2 linked regions of the Homo sapiens genome follow. The protein of the gene in region 1 purifies or fractionates together with the protein of each later gene. This does not show direct contact. Each region holds a gene or a part of one and is shown on either strand. Other genes may lie near its edges.

What was found.
Region 2: the proteins of SH3D19 (region 1) and METTL6 fractionate together in Homo sapiens (co-fractionation; one large-scale study listed by BioGRID). This does not show direct contact.

What each region holds. Positions count from the first base shown.
Region 1 is NC_000004.12:151,129,822-151,133,643, forward strand, and holds part of SH3D19 (SH3 domain-containing protein 19), read right to left. Parts: intron 3,416-3,822; coding exon 3,213-3,415; intron 2,563-3,212; coding exon 2,510-2,562; intron 1-2,509. UniProt on the Homo sapiens protein: May play a role in regulating A disintegrin and metalloproteases (ADAMs) in the signaling of EGFR-ligand shedding. May be involved in suppression of Ras-induced cellular transformation and Ras-mediated activation of ELK1.
Region 2 is NC_000003.12:15,413,760-15,417,581, reverse strand, and holds part of METTL6 (tRNA N(3)-cytidine methyltransferase METTL6), read left to right. Parts: intron 1-1,639; coding exon 1,640-1,810; intron 1,811-1,924; coding exon of another isoform or gene 1,925-1,948; exon of another isoform or gene 1,949-1,963; intron 1,964-1,998; coding exon of another isoform or gene 1,999-2,084; intron 2,085-2,667; coding exon of another isoform or gene 2,668-2,773; exon of another isoform or gene 2,774-3,419; coding exon 3,420-3,561; exon of another isoform or gene 3,562-3,636; coding exon of another isoform or gene 3,637-3,775; exon of another isoform or gene 3,776-3,822. UniProt on the Homo sapiens protein: S-adenosyl-L-methionine-dependent methyltransferase that mediates N(3)-methylcytidine modification of residue 32 of the tRNA anticodon loop of tRNA(Ser), including tRNA(Ser)(UGA) and tRNA(Ser)(GCU).

The sequences.
Region 1 (3,822 bases):
ACATTTAGCCCAGTGCCTGGCACATCTTAAGTGCTCAATAACTGATGGCTTATAAAACAAAAACAAAAAGCAAGCAAACAACACTAACCCCCTCTTGCTCCTGCACTTGAGTAACCAACCCTAAAGGATGGAACTTATCATTCTCCAAAAATGCAGGCAACAACCATGTGAACATTTCCTTTTGGAGAACTGTAGTCAGTTTCCTTCCTGTTTCACTTTATCAGTGGGTAGGGATAAAGAATTAAGGGACACACAGGCCAATTACAAGTGACATTTTCACAAACACAATGATCCCATCAGGCTTAACTCTTCTAAATTTGTCACAAAAAACAATGGAAGGCCGGATGTGGTGGATCACCCCTGTAATCCTAGTACCTTGGGAGGCTGAGGCAGGTGGAGCGCTTGAGCCCAGGATTTTGAGACCAGCCTGGGCAACAAAATGAGACCCTGTCTACAAAAAATACAAAAATTAGCTGGGAGTGGTGGTGTGTGCCTGTCATCCCAGCTACTTAGGAGGCTGAGGTGGATTGCTTGAGCCTGGGAAGCAGAGGTTGCAGTGAGCTGAGACCTCGACACTGCACTTAGCCTGGGCATCAGAGTGAGATCCTGTCTCAAAAAAACAAAACAAAACAAAACAAAAAAACCAAAATAAAACCAAAAACAACAAAAAACTAAAAACAACAGAAGGCACCACATTCCTAGTACCTTTAAGCATTTCTGGGGTCATGCTGAACAGTGTAAAAATTTTAACCCACTATTTTTCTCTTTCTCATTATACAAATGAAACAAATGTTCCTAAATATTTGGAAAGTTGAGAAACGTATAAAGAAATGGAGAAGGCCAGGCGCAGTGGCTCATGCCAGTAATCCCAGCACTTAGGGAGGCCGAGGTGGGTGGATCACGAGGTCAGGAGTTCAAGACCAGCCTGGCCAAGACGGTAAAACCCCGTTTCTGCTAAAACTACAAAAATTAGCGAAGCACAGTGGCAGGCACCTGTAAACCCAGCTTACTCAGGAGGTTGAGTCAGGAGAATCACTTGAAGCCGGCAGCAGAGGTTGCAGTGAGCCAAGACTGCGCCACTGCACTCCAGCCTGGGCGACGGAGTAAGACTCCGTCTCAAAAAAAAGAAAAAAAAAAAAGAAGTGGGGGAAAAAAACCTACCCGTATATATAATCTCACTACCTAGATGCAATTTAATACTAGTAACTTGAATAATTTCCTTCCAGTCTTTTTATGCTATATATTCAATTTTATATCCCCTTTCCCTATGTTTCCTCTCATGACATTTAAAAACATTATTTTATTTGATAAATCTAGTTTTTCATAGCTTTAGAATATTCTCCCAATAATGGTCATATTTAGGTTGTTTCCAATTTTTTCTTATTATATTAGCACTATGCTCATCTTTGTGACTAAAACCCTATCTCATTTTTTATCCTTTTCTTAGGGTGACAAATAAGAATGTGTACTTTCTCTCTTTTTTTTTTAACACTCACATGCTTATAATTGCTTGTTTAGTGCTGAGCTGCACTGAATCTTTGTTAACTGAATAGGTTAAATGGTATTTTATTGCTGCTTTATTATATATTTTCTTGATTATTAGAAAGGTTAAATATTTTTTCAATATTAGCCACTTATGGTATCTCTTTTATGAATTCTTTTTTTCTTTTTTTCTTTTTTTTTGAGGCAGAGTCTTGCTCTGTCTCCCAGGCGGGAGTGCAGTGGCGCAATCTTGGCTCACTGCAAACTCTGCCCCCCGGGTTCACGCCATTCCCCTGCCTCAGCCTCCTGAGTAGCTGGGAATACGCGCGCTGGTCACCACACCCGGCTGATTTTTTTTGTATTTTTAGTAGAGACGGGGTTTCACCGTGTTAGCCAGGGTGGTCTCGATCCCCTGACCTCATGATCCGCCCGCCTCGGCTTCCCAAAGTGCTGGGATTACAGGCATGAGCCACCGCGCACAGCCTCTTTTATGAATTCTCTAATCATGTCTCTTTTATCATTTTCTTTCTTTCTTTTTTGAGATAGAGTCTCGCACTGCCACCCAGGCTGGAATGCAGTGGTGCTATCTTGGCTCACTGCAACCTCCACCGCCAGGTTCAAGCTATTTTCCTGCTTCAGCCTTCCAAGTAGCTGGGACTACAGGTGCACGCCACCATGCCTGGTTAATTTTTGTATTTTTAGTAGAGACAGGGTTTCACCATGTTGGCCAGGCTGGTCTCGAACTCCTAACCTCAGGTAATCCACCTGCCTTGGCTTCCCAAAGTGTTGGGATTACAGGCATGAGCCACTCTGCCCAGTCTCTGTTTTCATTTTCTATCAGGGTTTACATGTTTTTGTATGAGCTCTCTATATAAAATATATTAACCATCTAAGAATTTATTACAAACATTTGTTGTATGAATTGAAAAATTAATTCATACTATATTCTCTTGAAAATTATGATTTTAATATTCCTCCCAGAGTCTGAACCTGGCTGTCACTATAGTCATCTGTTCAAGCAGCCTACCTGAGAGTTTGAGCCAGAATCTTCTTTTTTGGTTTTCAGTGGTACCTTTGTGCCTACATTAAAAAAACAAACAAACACAAGAAGTCAGAACATTAGATGTGAAGGCCACATAGTATTAAAAACAAATGGTTGAGGTGGGAGGTGGGAGTGAAGACTCTGGGATTCCACTCCGGTCTCTTCATGTATTGTCTATGTTGCGTTAACCTGTACTAACTTCACTGAGCTTGTTTAGTTAATTGTAAACACAACTATTTATAGTCTATATACATTAGTAACAGTCTATAGTTCATTTCTGTTTAAAAGTCTTTGCTATTTATTTATTAGATACAGAGTCTGGCTCTGTTGCCCAGGCTGGAGTGCAGTGGTACAATCATAGCTCACTGCAGCCTTGAACTCCTGGTCTCAGGCAATCCGCCCACCGTGGCCTCTCAAAGTGTTGGAATTACAGGTCTGAGCCATCATACCCAGCCTCTTTGCCATTTCTTATATGAAGCTATTGCTAATTACCTAAAATACCAAAACCAGCTCTTTGAGAGATGCCCACAAATAATGTCTATCCCACACAAATTCCCATTTTAAAATCAGTTTTCCTTCTACCGTAAAAATATGGCAATATGGATTATTATACAGCTTAAGTATAATGATATTATTTGGTTTATTTGAATTAGGACATAACATAATAAAAAAAATTCTCTATACTCACTTAAAACATTTGCACCAGAGGTGGGATAATCCTCAACAGGCTCCACAAAGTTCAGGGGGAAAATCCCAGTTCTGCCTCGAACTTCTCCTCTGGCCCATTCCTCATTCACATACTCTTTAAGAATAATAATTTCTCCCTCTGAGAAACTCAACTCATCCTTCTGCTCTCCAATATATTCAAACCGAGCAACACATCTTGAGCCTCTGAATGAAGAACACATTTTGTGGATTAGACTAGAGAGTGCTTTTAAAATGCTTAAAAACCTTCATTCAGTCTTTCAATAAATATTTATTCTGGGTTTACCATGGAATAAGGTATACTAGGCTAATTTGAAATTATTCCATGAAAAAGAGTAAGTTACACTTTTAAGTAACAGATATGAACCTATTCACTCAGAAAGGCTGAAGCTCAAGGTCGCGGAGTGCACGCAGCTGGGTGGTTAGTTTACCCTGCTGTGTCTTTTGATCTTCTTACTCCCCAGTCTCCGTATGTTTGTATCCTTGGGCCACAGCAATCCGTGGTCCAGTCTGAACCCTTCCAATCATAAATGCACTGAGTTGAGGAGTGCTAACCCTGAGAATCTCAGGGCAATTAATCAAATTTTCTGACT
Region 2 (3,822 bases), on another chromosome or scaffold:
CTCCATTCTCAAACCATGTTGTTTTATTACTACGTTTTGTAATATATTTTGATATCCAGTAGTGTATCTTCTCCTTTATTATTCTTCATTCTATTTTATTTATTTATTTATTTATTTATTTATTTATTTTTGAGACAGAGTCTCTATCATGCAGGCTGGCGTGCAGTGGCATGATCTCGGCTCACTACAACCTCCGCCTCCCAGGTTCAAGCGATTCTTCTGCCTCAGTCTTCCCAGTAACTGGGACTACAGGTGCGGGTCACCACGCCCAGCTAATTTTTGTATTTTTAGTAGAGATGGGGTTTCACCATATTGGCCAGGCTGGTCTCAAACTCCTGACCTCATGATCCACCTGCCTTGGCCTCCCAAAGTGCTGGGATTACAGGCGTGAGCCACCGCACCTGGCCTATTTTTTTAAAGATGAGATCTTGCTCTGTTTTCCAGGCTAGCTTGCAGTGGCATGGATCATAGCTCACTGCAGCTTTGAACTCAAGCGATCCTTTCACTTCAGTCTCCCAGGTTGCTGGGATTACAGGCATGAGCCACCATACCTACCTCATTGTTCATCATTTTAAAAATTGACTTGGCTATTCTTAAAGATTTTTACTTTATGATGAATTAGATTCACCCTGTCTAGTTTCTAGAAATCTGTTGGGAATCAGTTTAGATTGCATTGGATTTACAAATGGAATTATGAATAGAATTGACATCTTTTTAATTTTGCATTTAATTTTCCCATCCAGTAACTTTGTATATCTATTTATTCAGGTCCTCATTTACATGAAATAGAAGTTTAATGTTTTTCTTCATAATACTCCTATACATGTGTTGAAGCCTACCAACCAAAATGTACCAGGAACACATTTGTAGTCAAAAAAAGGTTAAGTTTATTTAGCTTGCTGCATAAAGAGAAAATATACCCCAGAAGAACTGCGGGAGCATCTCATCAAGGGGAATTAGAAGGGCTTCTCATAGGGTTTAGGCTTTAAGCAGATGATTCAAAGGAGGATTAAGGAAGCCAGAGGCCAGCAGGACATAGTGGCTCATGCCTGTAATCCCAGCACTTTGGAAGGCTGAAGTGGGAGGATCACTTGAGGCCAGGAGTTCAAGACTAGCCTGTACAACATAGCAAGATCCCATCTTTACAAAAATAAAAATAAAAATTTAGCCAGATGCAGTGGTGCACACCTGTAGTTCCAGCTACTTAGGAGGCTGAAGTGGGAGGATAACTTGGGCTCAGGAGGTGAAGGCTGCAGTGAACCATGATCATGCCACTGCACTCTAGCCCAGCAGACAGAGTGAGACCCTGTCTCTTTAAAAAACAAAAAGAAGCAGAGGCCAGTTTTGGATCATCATCCCTCTGGAAATAATATGCTTCTAAAATGCTCAGTTTTGAGTACGTGATACTCTTATTGTCTCCTCAGTTAAAAATGATTTATTAAAATGAAGTCTTGCTCCTGTAGCAGTAGTGAATATTACATGCTTTATAGTGAGTGATTTATTAATCAGTTTTATCTGGTAACAGTGATAATTTCTATGTATACAAGTGGAAATTGGATCGCCTTTTGATGTTGTATTTTTCTATATGTATCAGCCTAGTGGTTGCATTAAAATTCATTTGTATTTCTTCCCCCTGTAGCAAAATCCTTTATATGATACAGAAAGATGCAAGGTATTCCAGTGTGATCTGACTAAAGATGATCTTCTGGATCATGTACCGCCAGAGTCTGTGGATGTTGTTATGTTGATATTTGTGCTGTCAGCTGTTCATCCTGATAAGATGCACCTTGTCTTACAAAACATTTACAAGGTTAGTGATTTGGGGCCTGCACTTGAGGGTTGGACAGTCTGGATTCTTTTACTTACCTTCCCTCATGAGGCTCATGTACTGTCTAGATTCACATAGTCTCTCCATTCTCACTAGGTAGGCTGTGTAGTGAGTGTATAGAAAGGGGTCCTCTGGCATAAAACATCCACCCTAAATTCTGATTTGTGCAGTGCCATGGCTGCTCTTCAGAGCTTCGCCAGCCCTGGGACAAGGATGATTTTGCAGTTACCTGGGATCCATGGAGTCCTGCTATAAGGTGAGAGGAGTTATGGTTTAGTGGTCAAGAGTACACAGTTTGGCCAGGTGTGGTGTTTCATGCCTGTAATCCCAACACTTTGGGATGCCAAGGCAGGTGAATCACTTGAGGTCAGGAGTTTGAAACCAGCCTGGCCAACATAGCAAGACCTTGTCTAAAAAAAGCTAATGTATGATCATTGGCAGATCACTTAACCCTGTTGAGTATTGGTTTCCGTGTCTCATGTGAGAATAATAATCACATTCCTTTGTCCCACAGTTGGGTGAAGATACAATGAGAAAATGTATGGTTAAGCAGTCAAATGCTAGGCATGTATCAGTCATTAGCACCGTGATTGAGCTATACATTGTGGCACAATGAAATGAGAGCTGAGGCTCAGAATGAGGAAAACCAACCTGAATCAGTAAAGAGCCAAAACGACATTCTGGTTTTTTGTTTGTTTGTTTGTTTGTTTTTTTAAGAGACAGTTGAATACAGTTTGAGTACTAGGAGATGGTGAATAAAATGTTGCAAGAAAGTGCTTCAATGAGGATAACACTTTCATTTATTGTCTCTAACACTTATTTATTTATTTTTGAGACAGGGTCTTGCTGTGTCACTCAGGCTGGAGTGCAGTGGCATGGACGTGGCTCACTGCAGCCTCAACTTCCTGGGCTCAAGCAGTTCTCCCACCTCAGCCTCTGAAGTAGTTGGGACTACAGGACGCACTACCAGATCCAGCTAATTTTTAATTTTTGTGTAGAGATGGGGTCTCACTATATTGCCCAGGTTGGTCTCTAACATTTTAATCCTGTGACACTGGACATTCCAGGGTGCTCTTGGAGGTACTCAAGAATTGTCTTCAGGGACGAGCGAGGTGGCTCACGCCTGTAATCCCAACTTTGGGAGACTGAGGTGGGCAAATTACTTGAGGTCAGGAGTTCGAGACTAGCCTGGCCAACATGGTGAAACCTCATCTCTACTAAAATACAAAAATTAGCCGGGCATGGTGGCGGGCACCTATAATCCCAGCTACTCGGGAGGCTGAGACACGAGAATCACTTGAACGTGGGAGACGGAGGTTGCAGTGAGCTGAGATTATGCCACTGCACTCCAGCCTGGGCGACAGAGCAAGACTCCATCTCAAAAAAAAAAAAAAAAGAAGTGTCTTAGTGTTATGGAGCCCTGCCTGGTCTTACTATCTTTTTAAGTAGTAGGCCATTTTGGTTCCGTATTATGGGCATTTCAGTCTGTCCCCTTAGTAACTATCACAAATTTATTTTAAGTCCTAACTTAATCAGGTTTTATTTTGACAGGGTTCTCCAAAGTCATGTTCAGCCTGCTTTTGTTTCATAGGTATTAAAACCAGGCAAAAGTGTCTTGTTTCGTGACTACGGACTGTATGATCATGCCATGCTTAGGTTTAAAGCCAGCAGCAAACTTGGAGAAAACTTTTATGTTAGACAAGATGGGACCAGATCATATTTTTTTACTGATGGTAAGATGAATGGAATCCAGTCTTTAAATGTTTTATTCTTTGTTTCTGTTTATTTGATTGCATTATCACTGCAAGGCTGCTTGGAGAAGGCTTGCGACATGTGCACGAGACCCTGAAACAAGCCCTCTACTGCACAATATTTACCCAGCACCTGGAAGGCACAGACCTGGCCCCTGCCCTTGAAGAGCTCACAAGCCTTCTCTGGTGTCAGTGACTCCCCTAATGAGCTTGGGTTAATGGACAGCCTCTGACATGCCATGT